Regions from separate parts of the Homo sapiens genome. Here region 2 is linked to region 1. The links come from fine-mapping of genetic effects on gene expression. A gene starts in region 1. The other region holds a variant in brackets. All regions are shown on one strand. Distances are from middle to middle.

Region 1 (11,109 bases):
TGCCTCCTAATTCAGCTTAAATCCAAGGGTCGATCATCATACTCACTCCCTTGTATATATGCTCAATGCCCTCCATCATTCTCTCTCGGCAAAACCCCAACTTTGGTTACATCCAATTCTACGCCTGCACCCGAGTGGCTGAATATGTCTTTTGAATCAAACAGGTCCTGCCACGTAGGAGCTGTGAGACCTTAGGCACATTACTTAACCCTGGTGAATGTTAATTTCCTTAGCTATGCTGAGAGACCTCAATTAAAATCTGGGATAACTAGTCTCAAGTTGGCACTTAGGGATGCCCAGGAATCATTATATATTTCTCTTTCCTCTTCCACCATCATAGATAACAATTTCCCATCTTCTCCTTTTCTCCTTTCTTCTTAAACCTCACAGCATCCTCACTATCAGCTCATGACCTGGCTTCCAACTTCAATTAGAGAAGAGAAGCAATCGGAAGAGAATCTTCACTTCCAAGAGCCTATCGACGGTCTCGTGTCTATCCTCCTAGTAGGTGTGACTGTCCATGGTGCTAGCCAAGGTGCACCTCTCCCCATGTGTGCCCTAAGTGCCATCCTCTTGCCTTATCAAGAACATGGTTCTAGCACATTTTCTCCTTTCTATCCTTTCCATCATCATTTTTCCCCTTCTAAATGATGGATCATTCACATCAGCTACCTGACTCTTCCTCTTCTCAGGTGTGAAGTTTAAAAGATACTTAAGGCCGGGCGCAGTGGCTCACGCCTGTAATCCCAGCACTAAGGGAGGCCAAGGCGGGTGGATCACCTGAGGTCAGGAGTTCGAGACCAGCCTGACCAACATGGAGAAACCCCATCTCTACTAAAAATACATTAGCCAGGCATGGTGGCACATGCCTGTAACCCGGGAGGCAGAGGTTGCAGTGAGCCAAGATTGCACCATTGCACTCCAGCCTGGGCAACAAGAGTGAAACTCTGTCTCAAAAGAAACAAACAAAAAAAGATACTTAAGGTCTCCACAAGGAGGAATTAAATTCCTACATCAAATGTATTCATCTATGTAAAGTGCATAGAACTGTGTCTGACATATGGTAAGCATTATATGTTTTAGGTCTTATTATTACTACATTTACTGAGTGCTTACACGTGCAATACATTTTTTTCCTTTTTCTTTTTCTTTCTTTTTTTTTTTTTTGAGACAGAGTCCCGCCCTCTCACCCAGGCTGGAGTGCAGTGGTGCAATCTCGGCCCACTGCTCAACTCCCGGGTTCAAGCGATTCTCCTGCCTCAGCCTCCCCAGTAGCTGAGATTACAGGCACCCACCACCATGCCCAGCTAATTTTTGTATTTTTAGTAGAGACGGGGTTCCGTCATGTTGGCCAGGCTAGTCTCAAACTCCTGACCTCAGGTGATCTGCCCGCCTTGGCCTCCCAAAGTGCTGGGATTACAGGTGTGAGCCACTGTAATACATTACATTACAGATACAGACAAGGAAACTATGACTCAGCAGGGTTAAGTAATGTACCCAACGTCTCGTAGCTCATAAATGGCAGGATCTGTTTGGTTCTAAAGCACACATTCTTAAGTATTCTATGAGAAATTCTGGGCCACTGATGCACAAGAATTCTTGGCCACTGGTGTACAAGGAAAGTCACCTGGGATGCTTAGGGAAAAGGTAGATTTGGGGCCTCACTCCTGACCTGTAGAATCAGAATCTTCAGAGGGTAGAGCCTAGAAATCTGCTTTTAAAATAAGCACCCCAGGTTATTTTGATGTAAATGATCAGCCACATTTGACAAACTCCTTTATATATATTTTACTGCATACACAGAAAACAAATGAGAAGAATAAAACAAATGGCTAACAGTGGATATTTTAGGAGGTGGGAGAGAAAAGTTTATAGAGAACTTTCATTTTGTAAGGTATTATGGTTTAACATGATGGCTACATTTTCTTAAATTAGCAGGTGATTTTTTTTTTTTTTTGGAGACGGAGTTTCGCTCTTTGTTGCCCAGGCTGGAGTACAATGGCGTGATCTCGGCTCACCACAACCTCCCACTCCCGGGTTCAAGTGATTCTCTTGCCTCAGCCTCCCAAGTAGCTGGGATTACAGGCATGTGCCACCAAGCCTGGATAATTCTGTATTTTTAGTGGAGACAGGGTTTCTCCATTTTGGTCAGGCTGGTCTCGAACTCCCGACCTCAGGTGATCTGCCCACCTCAGCCTCCCAAAGTGCTGGGATTATAGATATGAGCCACTGTGCCCAGCCAGCAGGTGATTTTTAAAAAGATTTTAAATAAATAGAAGTAAAATTATCCCATTTTCTACTACTCACAAACACTGGTAACATTTTGAATATTTTTTCCAGTTTATCCACTATTCAGAGTAGGAAATAAAACTGTAGCTTTCTTTCTTTACAAAGTTGGAATTGTGGCACATATGTGGAATTTTGCATCCTATATTTTTACCTATTATATTCTGAGCATTTTCCCATGTAATTAATCACATAAGAGGCTATGAAATATAAGAAGGAATGGTTGATTTTTATATATGTCTTATATAAATATAAGAAGAAACATATGCTCATTTCTACTTGCCAACATAATTTCACGAAGCCCCTCTTACAACTTAAAAGCTTTGACTTTTAAGGTCAAAGGTGAGGTATGATGGCTCACAGCTGTAATCCCAGCGCTTTAGGAGGCTGAGGTGGGAGGATTGCTTGAAGCCAGGAATTTGAGACCAGCCTGGCCAATATGGTAAAACCCCATTTCTATACAAAAATTAGCCGGGCTTGGTGGCTCACATCTGTAATTCCAGCTATTCAGGCCGCTGAGGCGTTGAGAATCGCTTGAACCTGGGAGGTGGGAGTTGCAGTGAGTGGAGATCATGCCACCTCACTCTATCCTGGGCGATAGAGCAAGACTCTGTCTCAAAAAGAAGAAGAAGAAAAGAAAGTGTGAAAAAAAAAGGCACAAATTTTTTTTTCAGTAATTTATACCATACTGCTGAGTGAAAACAAATATGTTAAAGAATATATGTAGTATACCATCATTTGTGGGGAGAGAAAAAATAATACATACATGAATGCTTATACATGCACAGAATGTCCTAGGCATTCACAAGAAACATAACTGTTGTCTATGAGAAGAAAGAATGGATGCCTGGGGGACTGTGGAGGAAGGCAGGCCTATTTTTTAAAAATTTTCCCCGAATATTTAATTATGAAAAATTTTAAACATATAGATGAGTTGGTTTTACACAGGGAACCCTAGCATAGCCACCACCTAGACTCTACCATTAACATTTTACTATACTTGCCATATATATATATATATATATATATATATATACATACTTTTTTTTTTTTTTTGAGACAGAGTTTCACTCTTGTTGTCCAGGCTGAAGTGCAGTGGCGCAATCTTGGCTCACTGCAACCTCTGCCTCCTGGGTTCAAGCTATTCTCCTGCCTCAGCCCCCTGAGTAGGTGGGATTATAGGTGCCCGCCACCACTCCCGGCTAATTTTTTGTATTTTTAGTAGAGACAAGGTTTCACCATGTTGGCCAGGCTGGTCTTGAACCCTTGATCTCAGGTGATCCACCTGCCTCGGCCTCCCAAAGTGCAGGGATTACAGGCGTGAGCCACCACGCCAGGCCCGCTTTATCAGTGTTTCTACCCAACCATCAGTTCATCTTATTTTTTGATACATTTCCAAGTAAATTATAAATATAGATTCACTTACTCCTAAATTCTTCAGTATGGGTAGCATTAAACTTCAAATTTTGTTAACTATTTTCTCTTTGAATTAAATGCACATTTTTTAAAAATTTTATTATTTTTTATAGCGATAGCTACTTTGCACAGGCTGGTCTCGAACCCCTGGGCTCAAGTGATCTGCCTGCCTTCGCCTCCCAAAGTGCTGGGCTTACAGGATTGCACCACTGTGCTTGGCTGAAATGCATAAATCTTAAGGGTATACTGGCTGAGTTTTGACAAGTGCATACACCTGAATAACTGAAGTCCCTACCACAATATAGAACATTACATCACCCCAGAAAGTCGAAGGAAGACTACTTTTGATTGTATTATTTTTAGCACCTTCTGAATTTTGTATTATGTGCCTGCGCTATTTTTAAGAAATAAATATTTAAGCATTTTAAATATTTAAACATTTTTATAACAGTGGGCCGATTCTAAATTGGATGAGAAAGAGTGAAAACAGGAGATGGCAGATAACAGGTGGGGTCAATGGAATGGAGAACTTATTGAAGTCAGAGTTGTAGCAGTGGTGTTTCCAGAACAAGTGAGTTAGGAAAATTGGAATGCTTCGGTTGACAGTAGGACGCTGAAATCAAGCTCTCAAAAGTTGTCTTAAGGTTCAGTTAAGCATAAGCAAAGGGTGGCTTGGGTAGATGGAGATTAGGATACTAGTTTCCTTTCCCTTCCTACGCTCTCAAGTGCACACTGTATTTTTTTGTTTGTAGTTTTTTTTTGTTTTTTTTGTTTTTTTTTTGAGACAAGAGTCTCGCTCTGTCGTCCAGGCTGGAGTGCAATAGCGCGATCTCGGCTCACTGCAATCTCCACCTTCAGGGTTCAAGCGATTCTCCTGCTTCAGCCTCCCGAGTAGCTGGGATTACAGGTGCCCGCCACCATGCCCGGCTAATTTGTGTATTTTTAGTAGAGACAGGGGTTCACCATGTTGGCCAGGCTGGTCGCGGACTCCTGACCGCAGGTGTCTCGGCCTCCCAAAGTGCCGATTATAGGCGTGAGCCACGGGGCCCTATAGGGATTATAGGCGTGAGCCACTGCGCCCGGCCTCTTTGCAATATTTATCACAACTCCCACTAAGTAATATTTGACTTGTGTAGCCATCCTTAACATTTGGCTACCTTATTAGGCCATAAACTCCAAACGAGCAGGGGTCTTCTCTTTTATTTAATCCTGTATTTCCTGTGCCTAGTATATACAAGTGCTCAAACAAGTATTAACTACTTGATTGGATTCTTTAAGTAGGCCCATCCCTCTTCTCTTAGTCCAGAGCTCTTACTTATTTCTACGCATTATGGCCGTATGAAGGCTGTTTGTAAACCTGCAAAATACAATACCAGGTATCCTGCAGGTTCCACATGTAAATTATATTATCTCATTGGCCAGTGGTGTGTGGTCTGAAGGGGTAAAACCCGGAGGCTTATGGTTTAGGATCTTCTAGGATAATGTGCCTTCAGAAAATCGAAGATTAATATTCATTCTCTAAACAATCTTTTTTTTTTTTTTTCAAACTTTTTTGTAATGACGAGGGTGTTGAACTGGCCTCAAGTGATCCTCCCCCTTCGGCCTCCCAAAGCACTGAACAATATTTTATCTAAGTGCCAAGCATTCCTGAATAGAAATATTAAGAGTCATCACGCTTGTGCAGTCAACACATATTTACTGGGCGCATTCTATGCACGAGTTATTGAAGACAGCTGTTGTAAGCATTTCAGGACAATGCACCTCCCTTAACACCGAGTCCGGGATTTGGGGCGGGGTGCCGGAAAACGCCAGGTCCCGCCAGCAGAGGGCACGGTCCCGGCCTCGCTGCAGCCTCGGGACCCACCGAGGCTTCCAGGCTCCCACGCTCGCTCCCGAGCGCGTCCCCGCCCTCGCGTCACGTGACGTGGCCGCGGAACCTGAGCTGCGGGGCCTAAGCCGAGCTAAATTCGTTGCAGGTGGCCGCGGCGGGTGCAACCACAAAGGCTAATCCGAAGGAGTCGGGGAGGCTCGTGGAGTCGATGCTTCCTCTTCCAAGTCAGGTCGGCTCCCGTTACCTTCTCAGCATTCGCCGTTCCGGTCTTCCTGAGCGCGTGCATGAGGTCTTTCGCGTGGGGAAGCTCCGGTGACCATGTAGGGGAGAAGAGTGAGGAAGCTCCTGGTGCTTGGGACGAGGTCAGCGCTGTCGGCGCGCTGCTCCAGCGCCCACCACACCCTGGTGCGGGCCGACGGGCCCTGGGCCCTGGTGGGAGCTCCGGCCTCCGGTCAAGGCCTGGCCGGGAGCGCCACGAATTCTCGCGTCGTCTCGCGAGAGTCCAAGTTAAAGAACATGGCGACGTCTAATCTGTTAAAGGTAAGACCCTCACTCCAGCTTGGGTTTTACTGTGTGGCCGCCGGGTTCGGCTCTTTGGGAAAGGCACGGCTCAGGTTCAGCTGCGAAGTGTGGGAGTGTTCAGGGGTTGTCCACTGGCAGGGAAGCCGCGGTGGCAGCCGGCGAGTACCGGAACGCGGGTCTGTGGCCTTGGGGTCGACAGGCTCTGGTGGTCGCTCCCGCCGACTGGCCGCTGGGAGAAAAGCCTGGCTGAGCGCTGGCGAGGAGCGATGCTTTCAAGGGACCAGCTCTGGCCGGGAGCGGGAGATGAATGGTCGTGCGGTGTCCTGACCAGCTGGGCCGTTAGTACTGTTAGGTCTCAGTTTCTTGTAAAGCAATGTCTAAGACGCATCAAAGGAAAAACCAAGAAAATGCTGCCTAACAGGTTTCAGTGACTCGACCCCCCACTTCTTCCATTTCTGTTCTCGTTCTGTCTGCACGAAATTCCGAGTCAGACCAGCAGTGCCTCCCACTCCACCCCCCTTCCTCCCTTTTCTGCGTGTTACACCTTCCCTCCTAATTCTCCCATTCTTGAGTTCATCTTTTTCCTTAGGAAACTGCTTTCTAACCCCCACCCAGTTACAGGACACAACCAGATGACAACTGATGAAGCGATACCATCGTTTTAGGGCGCAGGAAAGTTACCTTGTCAAAGACAGTATTTAAAGTTAGTTTTATATAGCAAGGGAGATCTAGGCCCACAGGGGCAGATTCTCCACCAGTTAAAAAGTTTGGAGAAGAATGAGGAAGACTTAGAACTAGTCTGTTCTGTGTATGTGTCTGTAGTAGTTAATCATTTGCCTTAAAAGTACGGACAGAAATGGGGGTAGTGAATAGCTCAGGGAACATAATATTAATGGCAAAAACCGCAGTCACTTTTGCACCAGCCTAATACAAAGGATGAACCACTTCTTCCTGAGGCCTCTCATGCCTTCAGGCAATGTGGATGAATACTAGAAAATAATAGAAAATATACAGGAACCTAACCATCATGTCTTCTTTAGACCACTGATATTTGATTGTCTAATAGATGGGACTGTCTCATAAAATGAAGAACAAATTTTACTAAGAGGCAGTACTGTATATCACCTTTTAAAAGGGAGAGGGGCCCTAGAATTAGACTCCCTGAATAGCCACCACTTAAAAGCTGTATGACTTTGGGCAAGTTTCCTTATGAGTAGGACAGCATTATCAGTAGCGCCTGTATCATAGGAACATTGTGAAGATTAAATTAGTTAATATATCTATAATGCTTAAAACAGTGCCTGGCACTTAATTAGTATAATACAATAAATTACTATAACTACTCCCCCTCTTTCTTTAAGAAAACTAATTCGGGGAATTGAGTAACCCATCCCACTCTGCTTTTCTCTTTTATAATGGTATAGCAAATTTCTCATGCTTTACTTCAGAAAGAAAATTTGTGGGCTGGGCACAGTGGCTCACTCCTGTAATCTCAGCTCTTTGAGAGGCCAAGGTGGGAGGATTGTTTTAGATACATTAATTTAATCTTCACAGTGTTCCTACAATATAGGTGCTATTGATAATTCTGAGTTAGAGGTTATAGTTAACTATGATCACGCCACTGCTCTGTGAGACTCTAAATGAAAAAAGAAAAGGAAAGAAAATTTGTTTTATTTCTGAAGACTCCTATTAATGCATCTGTGTGTTTACATAAACAGTATGCTATTAATTGAAACGTGTTTAAGAAGTAATTTTGTCCGTGATTCTGGAAAATTTTGACTTGTTGATTACCTGGATATAAAGCAAGGTCTTTTTCTCCCGAAAAATAACTCTCAGAAAAGAGTAAGTCACTGTTCTACTTACAAAACCTCACAAAGGATTGTTTGGAGGAGAAGCTACTTTGGTCTATATTAGTTAAGTACTTACCTGTGGAAGCTATTTTGGTTCATATTAGTTAAGTACTTACCTGTGGAAGCTACTTTGGTTCATATTAGTTAAGTACTTGTGGAAATTCTGAATCTACATCCACAGCACAGACCTGTGAATGGGAAAACTGCCTGAATATACAGAAAACGGGGTACTTAGGGTTTAGGTTTAAAAGCTCACAAGAATTTAAAAAGTGTTTTAACTTGAACATTTACAAATAAAGGGAAGGTGATAATATTTTGAAAAAAAGTAAGTGACTCAGTGACTCTAGTGAACTTTCTTGATGTGTAACTTAGAAGTTAGAAGCCAATGTCATAAAAAAAACCACCAGCTTTTCTTTCTTTTTAATTTTTTTTTTTTTGGAGGGGGACGGAGTCTCGCTCTGTTGCCAGGCTGGAGTTCAGTGGTGCGATCTTGGTTCACTGCAACTTCCGCCTCCCGGGTTCAAGCGATTCTTCTGCCTCAGCGTCCCGAGTAGCTGGGACTACAGGCGCACGCCACCACGCCCAGCTAATTTTTGTATTTTTAGTAGAGACAGGGTTTCACCATGTTGGCTAGGATGGTCTCCATCTCTTGACCTCATGATCCACCCTCCTCGACCTCTCAAAGTGCTGGGATTATAGGCGTGAGCCACCATGTCTAGCTGCTTTTCTTTTTTAATATTGGAATTTGACTCTAATAATTTTATTGTCTGTTTAAAGCAAGTGGACTATTGCTGGATCTTAGAAGTCTTTCAGCTATGTAAAGATTTGTGTAGCACATTTTGACATATACAGTTAACTGCTTAGGGGTTTTGTATCTCTGAAAACCTTTCCATGTAACTACTTTATCTTTGTTGTTTTTCCTTACAGAGTGAGTCTGTAGAACATTTGTAGGGATCTGATATTATAATTTTATCTTCTGTTTTAGATTACTTTGAACATGTAATTGTGATTGTTCCTTTTCTTTTGCAATTATCATCTGGGCCCTTAGTGCTCATTTTTTTCATTTCCAGTTTATTGTTCCACCCCAAACAGCAATTGTTTAAACCTTTTCTTGCTGAGCCTCACCCCTCTTAATTCTTAGTACATTACTTTACCCAGCTATTTGAAGTGCCCTTAACTTCCTTGGTCGATACCAAACATTTTTCTTGTTTCTCCTATGTTCTTCTCTGTTCCATGCTACCTCCCAAATTGTCTCATTCTGCTTGTTCTTTTTCAGTCCTCATCTTCCCCCCAGGACTTGGTGGTATGTCCCCTCTTACTTTTTTTTTTTTTTTTTCAGTTTCCCTTTTTTCTCCTATGCCTATAAGAAAGTTCATATGTCGCGTCATATAAACTTTTCTTTTTTTTGGAGATGGAGTTTCGCTCTTGTTGCCCAGGCTGGAGTGCAGTGGTGTGGATCTCCACTCACTGCAACCTCCGCCTCCCAGGTTCAAGCAATTCTCCTGCCTCAACCTCCTGAGTAGCTGGGATTACAGGCACACGCCACCACACCCAGCTTATTTTTGTATTTTTAGTAGAGACGGGATTTTACCATATTGGCCAGGATGGTCTCAAACTCCTGACCTCAAGCGATCCGCCTACCTCGGCCACCCAAAGTGTTGGGATTACAGGCGTGAGCCACTGCACTCTGCCTCCTCATACAAACTTGTACTCTGCCTCTGCCTCAAACTTCTGTTTCTCACTGTCACAGTTCTTGGAAAAGCAGCCCCCATTTGCTGCCTTTATAATTCTTTGCCCTTTAACTTAATGATATGGCTTACTCTTCTCTCCCACCCAATTGTATAGAACCTGTCAGTCATAAAAGTATTAGCAACCTCCTGATTATCAAATGAGATTCTTCTCTGATAATATTTATCCTCTTTTCTGGTATTATTGCTCATTTCCTCTGCTTCTCTTTTGGTTTTTATGACATTCCCTCCTTGGTCTTCTCTCTCTCAAATCACGTTTGTTTTTCACTGACTTCCCTCCCCTGTCCCCAATAGAATTATTTCTCAGGATTTTATCTTCAGCCCTTTTCTATCTTTGTATATTTTTTTCTGGGACAGTCTTAACTCCCATGATTTCACTATTTTTATCTCTTAGCTCTGATCTGAGCTCTAGATCAAAATGCAGTTCTCACCATATCACTTTCCTGTTCAGATACCTTTGATGATTCAAATTATTTGAGATCTTTCCAGCTGGGTCTTCTCCTGATAACTAGTATTCTCTCTCTCTGTCTCTTGTCTCTCTCTCTCATACATGTGTGCGTACACACTCCTACTTAGCTGGTTACTTGTTGGCTCACTAGCATGCCAGAGGTCGTCATCTCCCTAATAACTAACTCTTAACTTTCATTCTCTCTCCTTCTGATTGGATCTAGTGAGATGGAGGCACAAGAAGGCAGTAGTATATAACCGAACCACAAGATAAATCAAACTTTAAACTGAAATATGATTCATACTACTTTTCTCAGTGGACTTTTTTTTATCCTTTAAGAGGAAAGAAAATGGAAATGTAAAGCAGTGATTCAGAGTGTCTATAGAGGCCGGGCATGGTGGCTCATGCCTGTAATCCCAGCACTTTGGGAGGATGAGGTGAGAGGATTACCTGAGGCCGACCTGGGCAATGTAGCAAGACCCTGTCTCTATAAAACAACAACAATAAAAAGTGCCTGTAAAAGTTATTCATTATTAAAATAACTTTATTGACATCCATATGCAAGGTACCATGGAGAATGCAAAGATATGTAGAACAATGTCCATGCTCTTTGGGAATTTACCATATGCTAAAGGAGAGTAAAAGGTACTAATGATTTATGATAAGGCAAAAGTTTCAGATGTGTTACCAACTGCTCTATGCTCCCTCACAGATTGAGGAAATAATTTCTGGTGGGATGATCAGTGAAAATTTTATGGAGAAAGTGTTGGAGCTGGATTTTGAATAAAGTGTTGGAGCTGGATTTTGAATAATGGGTAAGCTTTTTGTATTGGTAATTAGGAGAAAATTTGGTAGGAATCTAGGCTAGATCAGTGTGGCTGCAGTGTAAGCAGGGCTGCATGCTGTGTTAGATATTCTATATGAATAGTGTTCCTTGGGATTGTTGCAGCATAGAAACCCAGAATACAGGGAAACAACAAGAGGGATAGGAGTGAAAGGGAAGTCGGG
Region 2 (9,975 bases), 97 kb after region 1:
ATGTACAATCCAATAATCTAAGCTGTCTTTAGGTAATGCTCAGACTTTATTTCCTCCTGATCCTACTCCATTCATCCTCATTCATTGCTATTTGCATAGGTGGCATCTGGATATATTGAGTGTGAGAGGGATTTGCTTGACTGGTAATGACAGTAAAGGGAGTGTCATATCTATGCAGTTATGACAGTGTCCTGGATTCTTGCTTTTGGCAGCTATGAAGTAGTTGATTATCTTTGGGAATTTGGCTTTCTGTTGGTAACTGCTGCTGTTGTCTACAGCAGATGAATTTATGGTTCATTCTTTTTCTAGTTGCTAAGGGCCCCATGGCCTCTTCCCTGCTCTCTTTCCCCTGCTCTTACTGAGCTCTTGAAGCCTCTGAGACTCCACTACATCTTCTGTGTGGCTCCTTGGCCTACATGGCACACTGTCATTGTTCTCTGCAGAATAATGACAGGATCACCTTGCCCTGTCATTAAAGGCCCTGTGGCAGGTCCATTAGCTCGAAACTCTTGCTGTCACACTTGGGAACTGAGGGAGAGTCAGAAGTGCAGATTATTTCCCTCATACTGTGCTACTCTTTAAGTGACCTCCAGCATATCAAATGGGGACCAGGGCCAGTGTCCCTCTGCTCTCTTTTCCTCTTAGGTTCTCTAACTACCACCTTCACCTCTATCTAAGGAGAAACTGGGATGTTTACAAATGCCTCTGCTTTTCCTCTGGGTTCCTGTAATCTTCAAGTGCCTGAAGGAACACACTTTCCTTCTTCCTTCTTCCTCTCTGAACCCCTGACATAAACCCCAATTTATGATGATCAGGAGCCTGGTATCTGAATACCATCAAGGGTGAGAGGAATTCACTTGACCTTCTGGTGTCATCATATCTTTTATTTATTTTTGTTTATTTTATTTTATTTTGAGACAGGGTCTCACCCTGTTGCCCAGGCTGGGGTGCAATGGTGTGATCTTGGCTCACTACAACCTCCACCTCCCAGGTTCAAATGATTCTCCTGCCTCGGACTCCTGAGTAGCTGGGATTAGAGGTGCTCGCCACCACACTGAGCTATTTTTTGTATTTTTTGTATTTTTAGTAGAGATGGGTTTCACCATGTTGGCCGGGCTGATCTCGAACTCCTGACTTCGTAATCCGCTCCCCTTGGCCTCCTAAAGTGCTGGGATTACAGGCGTGAGCCACCATGCCCGGCCTATTTTTCTATTCTTTTGAGACAGGGTCTCACTCTGTCACCCAGGCTGGAGTGCAGTGGTACAATCTCAGCTCACTGCAACCTCTGCCTTTCAGGCTCAAGTGATCCTCCTGACTCAGCCCCCTGCGTAGCTGGGACCACAGGCGCGTGCCACCATACCCAGCTAATTTGTTTTTGTATATTTTGTAGAGATGGGGTTTCGCCATGTTGCCTAGGCTGGTCTCAAACTCCACGACTCAAACGATCCACCCACCTCAACCTCCCAAATTGCTGGGATTGCAGGCATGAGCCACCCTCCCTGGCTGGTTATCATATCTATATAGGGGAAGTTGAAGGAGTTTTTCTCTTACTGAATAGTGCCTGACTCCCAAGTCTGTTGATTTGCAGCAAAATTATATTTTTAAACGTTAAAAGCAAATGTTACTTCTTTTTCTATTTTGACATTTCTTTTACAACAAACTCTAATCTGTGCTAAGATAGATATATGCCTTTTGTTTTGGAGACAGGGTCTCAGGCTGTGGTGCAGTGGTGTGATCTCAGCTTACTGCAACCTCCACCTCCCAGGCTCAAGCAATCCTCTTTCTTCAGCCTCCTGAATAGCGGGGACCACAGACACACGCCACCATGCCTGGCTAATTTTTGTATTTTTTATAGAGATGGGGTTTCGCCATGTTGCCCAGGCTGTTCTCAAACTCCTGGACTCAAGCAATCCACCCACATCACCCTCCCAAAGTGCTAAGATTACACACATGAGCCACCACACCCGGCATATACATGCCTTTTGTTGGGTAAAGAGAGAGCTGGTACTGGAAAAGGTAAAAGAGAAAAGAATATTTAATGATTTTCTGATAACTCTTATTGTAAACTTAACAGTAATTAAGGAAATCATCAAGAAAAATTTTGATAAAATGACCTAGATGAAAAAGATTTATTTCTTTAGAAACTTAAAAGTGACTGGGCATCGTGGCTTACACCTGTAATCCTAGCACTTTGGGAGACCAGGGCAGGGGAGTATTTGAGTCTGGGGGTTCAAGACCAACCTGGACAACATAGCAAAACCTTGTGTCTGTATTTAAAGAGAAGAAGGGGAAAAAAAAAACCTTAAAAACATTTAATTGAGTCAATATAAACTGAAGATAATATTTGTAGCAAATATAATTAATTAATCTGGTAAATATATAAAGAGTACTACTTAATGACTTTTAAAACAGACCCCACCTGACCTGTACTGCTATACAAAGAAATAACTGAATACAAGGGAAAAATTTGGTGTAAGGGGTTTGTTATATTTTAATTAATGTTTAACATGATACCAGGTTATATACACATTGTTTTCACAGGTAAGATAACTTTTAAGAATGTGAATGGCATGGGAAAAAAGGAATTGAAGGAAATAATATTAAAACATTAGGTGTAGTTTTCTTTCAGCAGAGAAGCAGAGGTAATTTTGCTTTTCCTTATTTTTCAAAATCTCTATAGTCAGATTTTTTTTAAATACATACTTTAAGTTCTGGGATACATATGCAGAATGTGCAGGTTTGTTACATGGGTATACACGTGTCATGGTCATTTGCTGCACCCATCAACCCGTCATCTACATGAGGTGTTTCTCCTAATGCTTATCCCTCCCCTATCCCCCCACCCCAATAAGCAGATTCTCTTTTATGGGGCATGAGAAAACAAAAGATGTTTTTATTTGTTAAGTAAAAGATACTAGTCTCAACATTAATCCCCTAGTGATTATTATTCATTTGGGTAGATGTTGGATAGAGGATGAATATGCATAAAAAGTCATTTTTCAGTTTGTTGTACTTAAAATAATTTCGTATATTAATGCGCTTTTATTTTTATTTTTTCTTTTAGGAAGCTATCATACAAATAATGAAAATGAGAAAGAAAATTAGTAATGCTCAGCTGCAGACTGAATTAGTAGAAATTTTGAAAAACATGTTCTTGCCACAAAAGAAAATGATAAAAGAGCAAATAGAGTGGCTAATAGAGCACAAATACATCAGAAGAGATGAATCTGATATCAACACTTTCATATATATGGCATAATTTTGAATATCATGGACAATATTTAGAACCCAAATTTTGGAGTGCTTGGGCAGAAAGTTGTAAAGTTTGTGCTGGAGAAAGGTTTATTTGGACTTTGATTACATAAATATTAAAATCTCTGCCTTACCTTACAAAAACAACTATATTTTGCCAATCACATTAGTTAGCATGATGGCATTCCCTTCATGTTGCACACTCTTTGACAGCATGCTGTTTTGTGGAGAAACTTGCATTCATGAAGAGCCCATTATCAACTTTTAAAAGTGAATTTGATTTGTACCCACCAGGAGAAATACAGTTGGGAAGGGTGAGGGTGGGGTTCTTGTTGCTTTTTTCTCTTTTTTCCTCTCTTAAAAAATGTACTTGCACAAGGAAGGATCTTCAGATATTCATGCACTGAAAAATGCTGTTATCTTTTGTTTTTAAAAAATGCAATTAAAACTAGAAATAGCACTCTTGGTTTCTTTTGATGAAAAGAGTGAGCTGGTCAATGCAACATTGGGAAACGGCAGATGTAGGTGAGAAGTTAAGTATTTAATAGTATCAAATTGTTCAAACATTGCTCAGTATAATAACTGGATTTTAATGGTGACCTAAAAATGGTATTAAATATTTTCAACTTTCAAATGTTGGTTTTCTTTAAGCAGGAGACTGCTATTTTAGTTGTTGTTAAATGATGAGGAGTTTTTTTTTTTTTAAATATGGCTGGAAAGCTTGTTTTGAAAAATGAAGCTTATATTAATTGTTGCTTCAATAGTTTAAAAAATTTATGGAGATAGGTAGGTCATTATGATTGCAGAGCCAAAATAGCAAAACAAACATATTAAGTGTGTTTACTAAACATATTGTGTGTTTACTAACACACTTAATGTTTATATACCTAATATTTATTATGCCATATCTGAATTTATTAAAAACAACACAGAAATCTCCTGCTCTGATATAGTTATGTAACTGATCTCTTAATCTGTAGCATAGAAGTATTTTGGTATTTTAAGGTCTCATGATTAGGGATTTGTAGCCTCAGGTTTGAATCAGTCACCTAGGGGTAAGAGAAAAACCACAACATAAGACCTGAAAAACAGAAGCAAAATTGTTGCACTCTTAATACGAGCAGTAAACTTGCCAAATATATGTACATATATATTTATATATTTTAAAAATAAACATTTTTTAAATCGTCAGAAGGCAACATTTACCATGTTCCTTTCAGTCTATCCAAAGTAGCAACTTAACTAGTTGCTGGCAACTGAATACCCAGAGTAGTGGAAATTTTAGGACTTGAGGACGTGAACAACTTGAAAGAGAAAATTGATTCCCCTTGAGGAAAGAATGGCTCAACGTGGATTTTTATTCATTGTGGTGCACGTTTCAAATTTTCTTGCAAATTATTTTATATCTTATTTGATGTTAAGTAATATTTTTAAAGTATGGTTTTTGAAGATAGTAGGAAATGGAGTACAGAAAGGCATACAGTATTATGTTACAGTGGAGTGCTTTCAAGAGCATTTCGTAGGATCTGTCCCCATCCGAAGAGGCTTTGTGAACTGCCTGCTGAATGGAAGGAAAGCAACTTTAAAACATTTAGAGTTTTGCTGAGTATAGCCAAATGCCTGTTCTGAAACTTATAGGAAATTGGAATTTTGTTTAAAATTTTACACTTTAAGGTAGCAAATGTCAATTATTAGACCGAGCATATTGTGAAGAATTAAACTAAAATTAATACGTACAGTTTTCTCTAATTAGGTGACTGTTCATAATGGGTATATTTGGAATTTAGAAGAAATAATTTTGTAGTAATTGTGGCCCTTATGTTTAACAGATAATTCAGCATTGGCGTATTTGCTTGTCCCAATACAAGAATGCCAAAGGAGGAAACAGGAAAAATTGCCGTCCATTTTAAAAATTTAGGTTTGTTGTTTTAAACCATAATTGTTCTCAGAACTTTTTTGGAACTTCTAATTTTGGGTCATTTAATTTAAGAATGAGAGTCATGATGTTTTGATTTATGAAGGTGAATTTAATGCAAAAGTGGGTAACACTACATTCATAGCAAAGTTTTTTATTAAATTTTATAAATTTTTAATAGCCAATTATGTCCTAATTGTATTTTGGGGAATGAACAGCAGCAAATACTGTAAATGTACAGTTTTCTTTTTTTTTTTTTTTTGGTTATGTATACAAAAGTTTTAACTACTTTTTGGTGTTTATGAAAATCATTTAGTTGACAAGGTGCCTATGCCATTGTTAAATTTTCTTTAAGTAATTTAACAACAGATTTGCTAATTTAAAAAAAAATGAAAAAAAAAATCTTACCAGCAGTTTGTAAAGGTCTGGAATCACAGTTGGCATCCTTTATTCAGGTCTCTTCTCTCCAGCGTACACTTAAAATTGGTGCCGAGCAGGGATATAACCTGCAGTTAAGTGAAAAGAAAATCCAGCCTCCCCCTCCAAAAAAAAAAAAAAAATTTAATTTTTAAAAATTAGTGGTATGGCAATAAGACACTTCAGAGGCTATCTTAACCTCTGAATACCCATCTTCTAGTTTAAAGACAGAGACATCCCATCTGGAAAATGTTAACTTGTGTTGCCATCTCGTTGCCGGAGTAAGTAGACATAAGACAGAGTTTAAGAAGTAAAAATATAGAAAAATTTTGATGGTCACAATGAGATAAATATTAGAATATTACTATTCCAATGATTAAATGAGGATCTTGAAATAAATTCTGAAGTCTTCCAATTTTTACATTTATTGGAGGGGTCCCTGAGTTCTGTCAACTTTTTTATTTAAGTCTCTTGCTCTTATTTTGTGCATAAATGTTAAACCTTCCAAAAATGAAATGTTAGCTTTCTTTCTTTTACTTTTTATTAAATTTAATAGAAAATATGACCTGAGTAGTTAAAAAGTATTTTGCATTATTTGCAGTAAGATGTCTCTAGCACTGCTCAAAGGGCAAATTTTAAAACTTCAGTCTGGGTGAAAGATTTGCTAGTTTTACAGAAAGATTTGCTATCTTAAACTCAAGCTGGTTTTTCT[G/T]TTCTCATGTAAGTGACTGGGATGCTGTCTTATGAATTCTTCCAAGGTCATGTTTGTGAAATAAACATTACATGAGAGCTTTCCTGTCATCTACACTATATGTTGTCTGGAGTGTTGAACAAATTTATTTTAGTTTCTAAGTTGTAATCTATCCTCATATGGTCTATACGATTTTGAATGTGTGCCACTACATACTGAGATGATAATGCTGTACAATTTTAAGTGGTAGCAGTTTCTGTATGCAGTAGGCTGAAATATTTTGATGAACTGCTTAATTTTTGGATTTTATTTTTTAAGTTGTATAATTTATTTTCTTGCAAAATAAAAATGTAATATAAAAGCTTTTACCTATCCAGAAAATGTTGATGTTCTACTATAAAATAGTTACAAAGAGTTTAATTAAAATTTTTATAGTAGGTATATTTTTAAATTTGAAGGTAAATTAATCTCAGCCAGCCTTAGGAATCAGAAATATGAAAAGTAACCCACTTATTTATATTAGACTTCAAATTCTAATTCAAAATGAGAGCAGTCAGGAATGTAGCTTTTCCACTGATGATAGCATGTGGCTATATGCCTGGAAGAGGTAATAAAAAAAAAAAAATTCCAACCTGAAAGTGGTTAATATATTCATCAACTAAGATAGGCTATGTCATAACAAAATTCAAATTTTATAGCAGATAAAAGTAAAAAATGGGCCGGGCTCAGTGGCTCACGCCTGTAATCCCAGCACTTTGGGAGGCCAAGGTGGGTGGATCACCTGAGGACAGGAGTTCAAGACCAGCCTGGCAAACATGGTGAAACCCTGTCTCTACTAAAAATATAAAAATTAGCCGGGTGTAGTAGCGCGCGCCTGTAGTCCCAGCTACTCGGAAGGCTAAGGCAGGAGAATCGCTTGAACCCGGGAGGCGGAGGTTGCAGTGAACCAAGATTGTGCCACTGCACTCCAGCCTGGGCGACAGAATGAGACTGTCTCAAAAAAAAAAAAAAAAAAAAAAAAAAAGTAAAAAATGTAAAACATAATCATTTCACATTTTGGATATATTTGAAAATTTGTGAAATACTTATTTTTGTTTTTATTTTTATTTTTTGAGACAGAGTCTCACTTTGTCACCCAGGCTGGAGTGCAGTGGCGCGATCTCGGCTCGCTGTAAGCTCCATCTCCTGGGTTCATGCCATTCTCCTGCGTCAGCCTCCCGAGTAGCTGGGACTACAGGCGCCTGCCACCACACCTGGCTAATTTTTTGCAGTTTTAGTGGAGACAGGGTTTCACCATGTTAGCCAGGATGGTCTCAATCTCCTGACCTCGTGATCTAGCTGCCTCGGCCTCCCAAAGTGCTGGGATTACAGGTGTGAGCCATCGCGTCTGGCCTGAAATACTTATTTTTAAGCTAGAAATAGTTTGGCAATAAGGTTGTGAAACTGGACAGATAATAGCAATTAGTTACTGATCAAGTGAACAATTTAATAATCGAAAAAACTCTTGACTATAAGAAACTTGAATTGCATACAGGGACTTAATTACCCAGAGGAACTAAATTTAAAAGAAATTTCAGGCTGGGCGCAGTGGCTCACACCTGTAATCCCAGCACTTTGAGAAGGTGAGGTGGGCAGATCACTTGAGGTCAGGAGTTCAAGAACAGCCTGGCCAACATGGCAATACCCCATCTCTACTAAAAATACATACCTGTAATCCCAGCTACTCAGGAGGCTGAGGCATGAGAATCACTTGAGCCTGGGAGGTGGAGGTTGTAGCAAGCTGAGATCGCACCACTGCGCTCCAGCCTGGGCAACAGGGCCAGACTAATTCATTCATTGATTCATAAATAAATGTTATAGAGCTCCTTTACATTGAGGGATCATTTCTTGTTCCTACTGTAGTAGTCAATAAATGTTTTGGACAACTGGATGGAGGAACACATTTGACTTCATAACGACTCTAAACTCAACCTTGGACTTAAACTGGCATTTGGGAGTTTGGGGTTGGGGGAGGAGTTGACTTGGAAATGAAGCTAGAGAAGGTATTTTCTCAGTATAAAATTTCATCTGAACCAAGAAACAGATTTCATTTAAACCAAGAAATAAGCTTAAGCTTTTGGGCCCCTTGTACAAGGCTCTGGGAGGGGGAGCCCTACAAGTTTTGTATTTTCTTAAAGAGGGTCCTCAAAATATCAAGTTGGATTCAGCCCTGTTAAACCTCAGTGTAAAAAGGGCACATAGTAGGACTGAATGAATGATAGCACATGTGCCTGAGAATATAGTTCAATGTTTTAGTTCTTTTTTTTTTTTTTTTTTTTTTTTTGAGATAGAGTTTCTGTCACCTAGGCTGGAGTGCAGTGGCACAATTGCAGATCATTGCAGCCTTGAACTCCTGGGCTCCAGTGATCCTCCCACTTTAGCCTCCTGAGTAGCTGGGACCACAGGCACACACCACCTAGGTAATTTTTTTTTTATTTGCCTAGGTAATTTTTTTTTTATTTGCGGAGAGGAGGTCTCACTATGTTGCCCAGGCTGGTTTCGAACTCCTGAGTTCGAGCAGTCCTCCTCCCTTGGCATCCAGGAGTGCTGGGATTACAGGCATGAGCCACCGCACTCGGCCAATATTTTACATTTTAAGTGTGGAGACTTTATTTCCCATTCCCCATTCTGGGCTATACAATAGAATATGGACTTTTTATATCACGGAACTCCTGTTTTGACAGTGTACAACCCAGAGCAGGGTGACAATTTAGATTAACAATTGATGGTGAGAGTTGAGTTCTAGACTTTTGTGAACATCTGATTAAAGCAAAATACATGCATATAAAAATATAAACAAGTGCATATATAAATGTTAAGAGTTAACACACCCAAGCTTAGAAATCTTTAATAGTGATGTCCTGGAGTGCGTAAAATGAGTAACAGCTTGCTTTGTGGATTGGTCATGGCCTAACTTCAGGAGCGCTGATCCAAACTTTGATTTGCTCTACTTATCTAGAGAATAACAGAAGACTTCTCTGAGTGTTAATGGCTTCTTCCTATTTTACTTAATAATAAAGGAAATAGAGTATTTCCTTTTTTCCTTTATTATGCTGTAATTACTGAGCCAGACTGATACTGTTTAGATTTTTCTTCAGCAGTGGTTGATGGTCGAGGTGTGGCTCACACCTCTAATCCCAGCACTTTAGGAGACTGAAGCAGGAGGATCACTTGAAGCCAGGTTCAAGACCAGCCTGGGCAGCATAGTGAGGCCCCCATCTCCACAAAAATGTAAAAATTAGCCAGCGGTGGTTGGTTGCACAAACCTGTAGTCCCAGCTACTCAGGAGGCTGAGGCTGCAGTGAGCTGTGATTGTGCCACTGCACTCCAGTCTAGGGAACAGAGTGAGACTCTGTCTTAAAAATAAGTGGAACTTGGGAATACTTTAACATGTTGTTTTCCCATGGCTGCTAAATGTATAATTATTAATATTTACCCCTACTCTACCTTATCTCCTAAATTCTCAGTAGATGATATTGCTTTGAAAAAATAAACAGAGAAAATAAGGCCTTCAGGCATGAACTCTTAACTTGCCTTTTCTCCACCTGTAAACTTTACCTCTAATCATGTACATCTTCATCTGCCTGCCTGTCTCAGAGGAAGAGATCACCTCACTTGTTGCTCAAGACCAACTATTTTATCTTTTTCTGAATTCCATCCT

Which allele goes with the higher level. Positions count from the first base shown, and alleles are read on the strand shown. Sizes are in standard deviations (SD) of each study's normalised expression.
For the expression in monocytes after LPS of the gene that starts at base 5,599 in region 1, allele G in region 2 goes with a higher level than allele T (large effect, 1.8 SD a copy in Fairfax 2014).

The links. PIP is the estimated chance that this variant, and not a neighbour inherited with it, causes the effect.
Region 2: its variant is fine-mapped to the expression of CUL5 in monocytes after LPS (Fairfax 2014, PIP 0.95). The same link has a PIP of 0.9 or more in NK cells, monocytes, monocytes after interferon gamma and neutrophils.

Annotation. Positions count from the first base shown.
Region 1 is chr11:108,003,300-108,014,408 of GRCh38, forward strand. It overlaps CUL5 (cullin 5), which reads left to right and starts at 5,599. Exons shown (of 19, transcript NM_003478.6): 1 at 5,599-6,073. The coding sequence starts at 6,050. RefSeq lists enhancers at 5,724-5,823, 5,924-6,113.
Region 2 is chr11:108,101,126-108,111,100 of GRCh38, forward strand. It overlaps CUL5 (cullin 5), which reads left to right. Exons shown (of 19, transcript NM_003478.6): 19 at 3,065-6,636. The coding sequence ends at 3,259. Among named protein-coding and RNA genes, the nearest start is that of ACAT1, 15 kb to the right of the region's middle. The variant G/T (reference allele first, on the strand shown) is at 6,297.